Linked DNA regions of Homo sapiens: region 1 is linked to region 2. Evidence: fine-mapped expression QTL. A gene starts in region 2. The other region holds a variant in brackets. All regions are shown on one strand. Distances are from middle to middle.

What was found. PIP is the estimated chance that this variant, and not a neighbour inherited with it, causes the effect.
Region 1: its variant is the best candidate, but not a certain one, in a credible set for the expression of ATP6V0D2 in monocytes (Quach 2016, PIP 0.72).

Annotation. Positions count from the first base shown.
Region 1 is chr8:86,147,949-86,152,948 of GRCh38, reverse strand. ATP6V0D2 (ATPase H+ transporting V0 subunit d2) reads right to left here. Exons shown (of 8, transcript NM_152565.1): 6 at 2,661-2,837; 7 at 1,409-1,483; 8 at 1-133. Among named protein-coding and RNA genes, the nearest start is that of ATP6V0D2, 52 kb to the right of the region's middle. The variant A/C (reference allele first, on the strand shown) is at 2,143.
Region 2 is chr8:86,096,166-86,101,671 of GRCh38, reverse strand. ATP6V0D2 (ATPase H+ transporting V0 subunit d2) reads right to left here and starts at 2,762. Exons shown (of 8, transcript NM_152565.1): 1 at 2,564-2,762. The coding sequence starts at 2,693.

The DNA.
Region 1 (5,000 bases), 52 kb before region 2:
TAGTTCGATGCCTCTGTGAAATACATTCTGCTATCCACACAATATTTCTAATTTCCTGTTCCTTCAGCTTTACATATGCATAAAACACACCGTAGTGGAACTGTCTGTTGAATGCCAGCACATTCATTTGTACCTGAGGAAAGAAAAAAAGTAACACAGATCATCAACTTATTTGGAACATTATGGAATAATATTAAGCTACTGACTGGCTTGAACTTGTGCAGTGCTTATTTGTGTTTAAACAGGCAATCTCTAAATTGGGCCAAATAGAGGAGTATGGTGACAACTCAGAAAGTTCTAAAGAGAGAGTGTCACTCTGCAGATAAATGTAGACAACGGAAGTTATTAAAGTAAGTTTGTAGAATCACAAGAAAAGCTCCAAATTGAAATAGGAACGCTTTCACACTGTTAGTGGGAGTGTAAATTAGTTCAACCATTGTGGAAGATAGTGTGGCAATTCTTCAAGGATCTAGAACCAGAAATATCATTTGACCCAGCGATCCCATTACTGGGTATATACCTAAAAGATTATAAATCATCCTACTATAAAGACACCTGCACACATATGTTTATTGCAGCACTTTTCCCAATAGCAAAGACTTGGAACCAACCCAAATGCCCATCAGTGATAGCCTGGATAAAGAAAATGTGGCACATATATACCATGGAATACTATGCAGCCATAAAAAAGGATGAGTTCATGTCCTTTGCAGGGACATGGATAAAGCTGGAGACCATCATTCTCAGCAAACTAACACAGGAACAGAAAAACCAAACACCACATGTTTTCACTCATAAGGGGGAGTTGAACAATGAAAACATATGAGCACAGGGAGGGGAACATCACACACTGGGGCCTGTCGGTGGGGGGAATAGGGGAGGGATAGCATTAGGAGAAATACCTAAAGTAGATGATGGGTTGACGGGTGCAGCAACCCACCATGGCACACGTATACCTACATAACAAAACCTGCACATTCTGCACATGTATCTCAGAACTTAAAGTATAACACAATTTTTTTTTTAAAAAAGAAACATTATCTCATATGATTAACCAAAATTTTACACTAAAATTTGTAGCATTTGTAATAATGTTCTTCAGCAAATTCCATGAGGAATTGAATGTACTTCCATTACTTCTCGCAGTTTTTAAGTAAACTCTTTTAGGAGGGTATAAAAAAAAAAAAAAAAAAGAAAGAAAAGCTACAAACTTTAGCAGCACTGCTAGCACAAAGATTCCTAGGTCTGTGTGTAACTTTGTAGCAATAATACATCACTGACTATCAAGCTATGAATGTGCCTAATCAATTGGCATGATCAGCTGTAAAAAGAAAACCCAAAGTAAGAAAATATATAAAATCCACAGTAAGAGAAAAATAAGCTAATAGTATTTCCACTTATATCATACCTCACGCTCGTAAAACACGTCCTCCAATGTCTTTCCCCCACTGCCACCTACAGCTTCAAATAAAGGTTTGTATACCTTAAAAACAAAGACATTAATTTTAAAGACATTTTCATTTCTTATAAATGTATATAAATATATTTTTCCTAGCATTATAGAAATTGTGTACCTATTTAAAAAAAAATACCAGGAGGACTGAATGTTTTTTTATAGGATTTTGGCCTCCCGAAGAAACAATAAAAAAATCCAAATAACAAGAGTGTGGATGAAATTCTAGCCTATTGGCTTGTTCAGGGCTACAAGGCAATTCAACTCTCAGTATACAGTGTTTGAGCTCATTTTCTCACTCAGGTTCTTAGGGCTAGCTAGGTACATTATAGAAGCTCAGTGAATGTTCATGATTTGGTCAGTAAGGGTTCATGGTTCTTTGAGATGAAAATTGATAAAATTCACATGTAGTTTCCAGTGTGGAAGGGGTGGAATTTGGGAGAAATTCAAATTTTAATATTACGCTAAAGAGTCTCACGCAATTACATATGAGATGTCACAAGGGTTACGCATTTGCTGACTTTCATCTTTCCTGGAGTGCTTCAGAAATCTGGAGGAAAAGATGAGTGTCATTCTAGCCCTGGAAAAGTTACCTGGAGGTTATGTAAATGTGTGCAAGTGAGAGGGAATGGAAGCTGAGCCAAAGTGTACAACCTTAAGCTGAGGAGCTTCAGGCGCTCCAAGAGCAA[A/C]TGGATGCTGGAGTGGGGGAAGGACACAAGCAGCTATGTTTCCTCTCCTGATTTCTGGCCACTCAGCAAGGTGAGTGGAAAAACTAATACATCCATATTGTTCCTTGCCGTCCACCTAGACGTTCTGTGGCTAACCTTGTTTCCCTAGTGGGTACCTGAAAGGGCTGCTGGGTTAGACTATTTTACATAACGTTGATATGAGCTCACATTTCCAGAACACTGAACCAGTCTCCTGGGGGAACTTGCTTTATCAAACACTTCAAAAGGAGTGCTCAGATGACCATTCCTTGGAGATTTAAACAAGTACTTGCTTGGCAGGAACTTTAAAAATTAGCAGCTTGGGCTAGAAACTTAACGTGTTTCTTAGGGAGAGATTGCTTCAGCAAGAAACACTGATTGCTACCTTACAAATATTATTACTTCTTTTGAGTATAAGCGGAAATTTGATGTGTGAGCTTCTAAAGCACATGGAAATGAATGAACACAAAGGACTTAGGGAAGCCAGTGTCATCACATACTCCGTAATGATCCGCTACGTTCTTCATCTGGTCAAAGTCTTCTGCTTGAGCCAACAGCCGCAACCCCTCAGGATAGAGTTTGCCGAAGGTTGGATAGAGGGTCTCTCGGTCTTCTTTGCTCAATTCAGTGCCAAAGGAGTTAAGAGTGATGATAAAAGCACGTCTGTCGGCCTCAAACTGAATTTGCAAGACAAAACCAGTAAAATCTAATAAACTGCTAAATGCTATAAACAGACTCTTAAGTGCACACATTCATTTCTGAAATGATTCGCTTTCCTTTCTGGATCTATGTCTAATTATACTCCAGACATGTGTTATTAGTGTTCCCTTAGTCTTTTCTTGTAATGGAGTAACTCTGCTTGCCAGAGAAGGATCACACAGCAGCAATGATAACCTATGACTCCTGAAACCCCAGTAAGATTTATTTCCCGGGCACCCTGCAATGAATTCCTCATGTGTCTCTGTCACATTAGGCCGCTAGTGTCACAAGTGTCTCTTCTATAAAAAGGAGAATACCTATTTCTTAGGGTTCATTCAGGGGCAGAACCAGGTAACATAAGTGGAAGTGCTTAGCATGATGTTTGGAACAAAAAGTGTATGCCATACATGTTAATATCCCTTCCTAGTTGTCAATGTCAGCATAACTTTTTACATAATGAAATGTTGTGCTACCTACCATTTGTTTACACTTTTATGGCTTTGGTTTTCTTTGTTAGTGTCCTAGGTGAGGTATCAATAAATCTAAGACTGTAGCTAAGAACTATGTGGGTTAGGGCAAATCATCTTTCTCGCAAGAAGTTTTCTTCTTTGTAAGATGCTGGAATGTGGCTACATGATCTTCCAGGTAGGTCAACACATACTCACGGCCTGTCTTCTCTGTGCTGAACACCACTAGGCACCTGGGCTCGTATCCCTTCATCATTCCTGTTTCATCTGACCACTGAAGTCTTTCTTGAAATTTCGTTTCTATTCCTTTGAGCTCCATGTTTCTACAGTCTCTTGGTTCTCCTCCTCTGGCCATTCCATCTCAGTCTCTCCTTTAGGGGCTCCTCTGCCTATTGTGGGGGCTTGCCATGGTTTTCTTGGGCTACGCAGCTCTTCTCTAGGTACTCCAAATGCCCAGTAATTACCACTTCATTTTGAAATCTGTGCCTGCATTTCTCCCCACTACACTCTAAAATCTTTGAAGAACCATGTCTTTCTTGTTCATTGGTTTTTTTTTTTTTTTTTTTTCTTCCTTTGGAGATTGGGTCTCACTCTGTCATCCAGGCTGGAGTGCAGTGGTGGGGTCAGGACTCACTGCAGCCTCAACCTCCCACCTCAGCCTCCCAAGTGGCAGGGACTACAGGCATGTGACACCATGCCCAGGTAATTTTTCTTGTAGAGACGGGATTTTGCCATAATGCCCAGGTTGGTCTTGAACTCCTAGGCTCAAGAAAGCCTCTGTCCTGGGCCTTCTAAGGGTTAGGATTATAGGCATGAGCCACCACGCCCAGCCTTTTGTTCATTTTTGAATAGCCAGTGCCTGACACATAAGAAAGTCTTAAGTATTTACTGTATCCAACAGAGTGATGTGTGATCCTACTACTTTGAAATTCTCCAACATTCTCCATAATGTTGCTATTCAAAGCAATATTTTATGGCTCAGTAGATTTGACGTCACCTGGAAACTCATTAGAAGTGCAGAGTCTCAGGCCGCAGTCCAACCCTACTCAACCAGAATCTGCATTTTCATAGGATTCCCAGGCTATCTATATGCACGTGAAAGCTGAAAAGAATTGCTGTATGCTATCCTCTAATCAGCTTTTGACTGGTTAACCTATAACAAAACCCAACTTGCAACAGATTTCACTGGAAATCCTATGTAAGAACAGGTGTTTTCTATCAGGAGAGTGAGAGTTAGTTCCATCTGACCCTGTTGATTGCTCTCATGGAGATTATGTGTGAGCTGAAAAGTAGGGAGTGGCTTTATGTGGAAGCAAGGGCAGCTGTCTCTGGCTACTGAATATAACCAGTCCTGTCAGTAATTTTAGACCTTCTAGGGATAAGAGAAGAAATGGAAGAAGAAGATTTCGTGGCAATAAGAAAACTTAAAACAAAAATTAGGGCAACTAGAGCAACAATGGAGGTAATTGTCATAGATGTTCTTTAATGTGCTCTCAGATTCTAAAATGTCATGATCTTACGAAGAGAATTAGGGCAACGTAGGCAGCATTGCAGACTGGCAAACAGCAGAGTCCAGGCCAGAAGAGGGAGCTGCAGGAGACAAAGCAGGATGATTTGGAGGAATTGTCATGGCTCAATCATTGGGAAAGCAATTGGAGAAGTGGGAAGGACAGC
Region 2 (5,506 bases):
ACTGAAAATGAAGATACCAGATTCAGCTAACTGTCTATGTAGAGGATAGATCTGTTAATCTCATTTCTTCCTCCTTCTATCTATCCCCTTCCCTCGACAAGTCTTTTGATTAAAAGGGACCTTGGCAGAAAATATAGGGTACAATTTTTAAATTCCTGATTTTTATCTTTTTACTTTCTAGAATTCTTTTTTTTTTTTTTTTTTTTTTTCCTGAGACAGGGTCTCACTCTGTCGCCCAGGCTGGAGCACAGTGGTGCAGTTACAGCTCACTGCAGCTTCAACCTTTTGGGCTCAAGCCATCCTCCTGCCACAGCCTCCCAAGCAGCTGGGACTACAGGCATGCACCACCATGCCCAGCCAATTTTCAAAATTTTTAGTAGAGACGAGGTCTTGCTGTGTTGCTCAGGCTGGTCTTGAACTCCTGGCCTCAAGCAGTCCTCACACCTAGGCCTTTCAAAATGCTAGGATTACAGGCATGAGCCACTATACCCGACCTATTTTCTAGAATTCTTTTTTTTTTTTTTTGAGACAGAATTTCACTGTGTCACCCAGGCTGGAGTGCAGTGGCATGATCTCAGCTCACTGCAACCTCTGCCTCCCAGGTTCAAGAAATTCTCCTGCCTCAACCTCCTGAGTAGCTGGGATTACAGGTGTCTGCCACCACATCCAACTAACTTTTTCTATTTCTAGTAGACACGGGGTTTTACAGGCATGAGCCACCTCTCCAGGCCTAGAATTCTTTATATGGCTTTAGATATGGCTTCCCTTGATTTATCTCTGAATTCTTTTTTTTGTTTCCTTCTTTTTTTTTTTTGGTATCACAAAGATATTTTATGTATTCCTTGCATTTAAATTTGCATTCCTTAGCTCATTTAAGAGCTTGGCTGAAAACTAAATAGAATTCATTAAAATGTCTCCTCTCAGAAACACTTAGTCAGCCCTGTGTTCTTTATTTTATGTAGATTTTCTATACGTGACCGACGTTCTCCAGTCACCAAACTCTTATTTTAATATGCTGAAGTGACTTAGGATTTGGGGTTTTACTGTAATTATTTGTAGCCAACAGAATTAGTTATCTAAAAGGTTCTTGCTGTTTCCAATGCTAATGGAAGTGCAGGGTTTGTCGTAACTTGGGTGGTTCTGTCTGAACTCTGGCTTTAACTGGTCAGAACTATAAACAAGTGGCCTCAGGACCCTTCAGCCCTAATTGAGGAGACTGCAAAGTCACCTTTAGAAGGTTCATTGGTTCGTTTTTGCCTTTTAATACCCTTCCTAGGAGGCTTTATTCTTAGTGCTTTCTTGCCTTTTCTAGAATAATCTGGAAGCTTTAAACCACCTTATTATTGACCTATATGGGTTTTGTAAGTATGTTTCAAAATCAGTGAGTGTAGCTGTTTTTAATAATAAAAATACTGTTACAGACGTGGAATCTTTGGTAAGGTTTTGAAAAAAAAAATGTGGTTTAGAGACAATTTCCACTTGTTGAGTATTTATTTATTATAACTGAGAACACTGAGACTCAGAGGCTTGGAGCCACAGGTCACCTACTGGTGACATGACAGAAGTCAAATCCAGGACTTTTGAATCCAGGGCTGGCCCCACCAGTAACAGCTCTTGATTTTTTTTTTTTTTAACTTCAGTTAAAGGTAGACTTCAAACTCTCAAATCAATAGATACTGAGAAATGTGATAGAATAAAATTCTATAGAACAAGGTTTTAAATATATATATTTTTTCTTTGTCATAGATCCCTTGGCAGTTTGGTGAAGCCCTTCTCCAAATGTTTATAAATATGTAGAATGAAAATACACAGGATTATAAAGGAAACCAAATATTTTTAGATATAGTTGTCAAAATGTCTTTAAAATGTATAAGAATCTGGCAGGCATGATGGCTTACGCCTGTAATTCCAGCACTTTGGGAGGCCAAGGCAGTCGGATCACCTGAGGTCAGGAGTTCAAGACCAGCCTGGCCAACATGGTGAAAACCCGTCTCTCCAAAAAGTACAAAAATTAGTCGGGCCAGGTGGTGGGCACCTGTAATCTCAGTTACTCGGGAGGCTGAGGCAGGAGAATTGCTTGAACCCGGGAGGCGGAGGTTGTGGTGAGCCAAGATCACGCCACTATACTTCAGCCTATGCAACAAGAGTGAAACTCCATCTCAATAAATAAATAAATAATAAAGGATGAGTGTGGTATCTTACTTCAAAATAGAGAAAACATACATGACATTTCAAGGTATCTGCAAGAACTTTAAAGGGATATGAAAACATTGAATTTTTGTTGGTGACAGTGTCACAGATACTACTTATCTCAACTACTGTGATTTGTTGCCTACATTAGTAATGAAAGATGTTATAGTTCACTTAGAGATTAAAAATAGAGATTTATTTTTTTTTCCTCATTCAAGTTTATGGACCCCAGAAATCTGGACTGCAGGAATAAGGATCTGCTCAGAACTCTCAAACCATATGATTATGGGCTTTTTTTCTCCATGCTTCTGGAGAGGGACATCATTTCATTTTTTTTTTTTTCTTTTTAAAGGGTGAGAAGAGCTACACTTACCTTCTAGGGTCTCACACTGGACCAGGTTGATATAGTCTTGCTGGGTCAGGAGGCTGGCCTTGCATCCTCGAACCAGGCCCTCCAGGTAGCCATGGTCCACGTTGAAGTACAGCTCCGCACCTTCGAGCATGGGGGAAGAGATTGAAGCCAAGGTAGGGTGAAACAGCTCTGTAGTCCTGGACGGCCCCTGAAGATTTGCACTAGCCTGGGAAAAGTGCGAGTAATTATCAGGCAGCACAAGCAATCTATCAGGTGATAGTCAGGGTTTTTGTGACTAGTTTCCTCTGGTTTCAGTGGCTTTCAACACAGCACACTCAGCCCTGTTTATACAGCAACAATGAATCAGCCAGATGACCCAAGTAAACCCAGGCAACAAACCACGATTGGGAAAAAGAGATATGAGAGTCAGGGGAGGATCCAGGCTCAATTCTTACTCTCCCACAGATGGGACCCTTCCCAGCTTTACTATTGGGAGGCTTCAAACTCCTGAATGTTTTGTAAACATTCCTACCACCAGCTGAGCTTTCAACTGTAATTTACACTAATCCAAAATTCTTTGAGGACTATCAATATGAACAAAGAGAGGGTTTTTAATAAAAATAATTTAATTTAGGCTGGCATGATGGCTTACCTGTAATCCCAGCACTTGCGGAGGCTTAGCGGGGCAGATCACCTGAGGTGGAGACCAGCTTGGCCAGCACGGTGAAACCTCGTCTCTACCAAAAATACAAAAATTAGCCAGGCTTTGTGGTGCATGCCTGTAATCCCAGCTACTCGGGAGGCTGAGGCACGACAATCGATTGAACGTGGGAGGCGGAAGTTGCAGTAAGCTAAGATTGTGCCACTGCACTCCAGCCTGGAGGACAGAGTGAGACTCTGTCTCAAAATAATAATGATAATTATTATTATCATTATTATTATAATATAAGTAAATCAAATGTGACTAGGCAATTTGAAGAGTCATGAGAACCTAATTCTACCACACAGTTCATTTGTAAGACAAATGGTCAGAAATGCCCTAAAATTGCCAAAGGCTGGTAGTTGCTTCCCAGCCAGTCGAAGGGCATAGCCCAGGAAACAATCCTGGAAACAGATACAGAAGGCTATGATTCTATAATAATAAGCCACTACCTCTGCAAAATTGGACTGTTTAGAAGGCACTCTATTTTCTTTTTCCTACTTGAATCTCCTGTTTATTCTGCAATGTGAATCTGCACAGACAGTATTATTACTAAAATCACAAATAAGGAACCAGCCCTCAGAAGCTGTGAGGCAGCTCAAAATGCACAGCTGGCAATACAGTAAGTATTTAATGAAGCTGGGACTTGTGTTGAGTTTCATACTCCAAAAGGAGTGCTTGTTCTGCTATATATTGTATTTAGTTAAAAAATTATGTAAAATATCATGAATGCTATTTGCATATAAAGTGTTTCATATATATTGTGTCAAATCTTTAATTGGAACTAAAGTCCCAGAAATTCTCCAGTCTCTATCAGGGTTTTTCCGAACTGTTTGGGAGAAGCTAGATAAAAAGGAATCAATGTAAATTCTGCTTTGATTGTTGAAAATCACAGAGAATCAAACCTAGCTTTTCACAGTGCCCAGACTTTGAAAGTATTCAATAAATAGTAGAGGCTGCCATTATTGTTATCATTCTCTATCCACCCACCACAATTCCACCATCCTTAAACATCCTGAGTGTGTTTTATGTTGAATCAGTCACTTATTTATCACTTCTGTGGTCTAAAGATGGTTACATATCCACAGTTTTATAGAGTTCAAACTAATACAACTTAAATAAATTATAAATACCACACTTATCTTTTTTAAATTATTTTACTATGTTTTACTGTTATTTATGCACTTGAGGTTATTATGTCTATTGTATTTGTAAGGTAGATATTCTATATAATGACATGCTCTCATGCATCTCTTCTCAACTCCGGGTTTAATGACATAATGACGGTAGCTTGCAGCAGACCATGGCAGGAATGAAGTATTTATACCATGAAAATGGGCAAATGCTACAAATCAGGGCTTGATTCACTGTTTGGTTAATTGTCTGGACTTGAGAAAAAGATGGAGAAAATGTTAATAAAGCAAAGTAAAAGTATGTAATGTTTATAGCCATTATATTGTAAATTGCAAAAAAATTTGAAGAAATGTTCTTTCAGTATTTAAAAACTGTTATCTGATTCAGCAAGGAAGCCACTCCCTTTATGAAGATCAAGAGAAGTTTTACATATGTCTTCGTTGTTTCACTTTCATATTGTTCATTAATGTAAATAGAAATATTAGCCAACATTTATGTTGGATATTCACTTATTTGTCAATTCCAAGTATAGGTTGGGTACAGATAGAAGAATTGAACAAACAAAAAAATCAATGAAAGCATTCTGTGAAAATCAATTGACTATTGAATTGGAATTTACAATAAAGAGTATTTTTTTGGCTGGCTCACGCCTGTAATCTCAGCCCTTTGGGAGACTCAGGCAGGTGGATTGCTTAAGGCCAAGAGTTTGAGACCAGCCTAGGCAACATAGTGAGACCCAGTGTCCACAAAACATTTTTAAAAATTAACCAGGCATAGCGGTGTGCACTTGTGGTCCCAGCTACTTGGGAGGCTGAGGTGGGAGTATCACTTGAGCTGGCTAGGCGCACCTTGCAGTGAGTCGAGATCACACCATTGCATTCCAGCCTGGGTGACACAGTGAAAGCACATCTCAAAAAAAAGTATTATTTTACTGTTGCTTATAAATTGGTTGAGACACATTCTTTGCATCAGTAAAATTTAAAATAAACATGCCATACATTTTTATGGACAGCCAGTTGTTAAATGTGCACACCATAGCTTCTTCACAGTCTTGCCTAGAGCCAGTCCTGGACGTCAACATGCTCAAAAAAAAAAAAAAAAAGGAATTTTGCTGTTGTGTGTGCAAAACA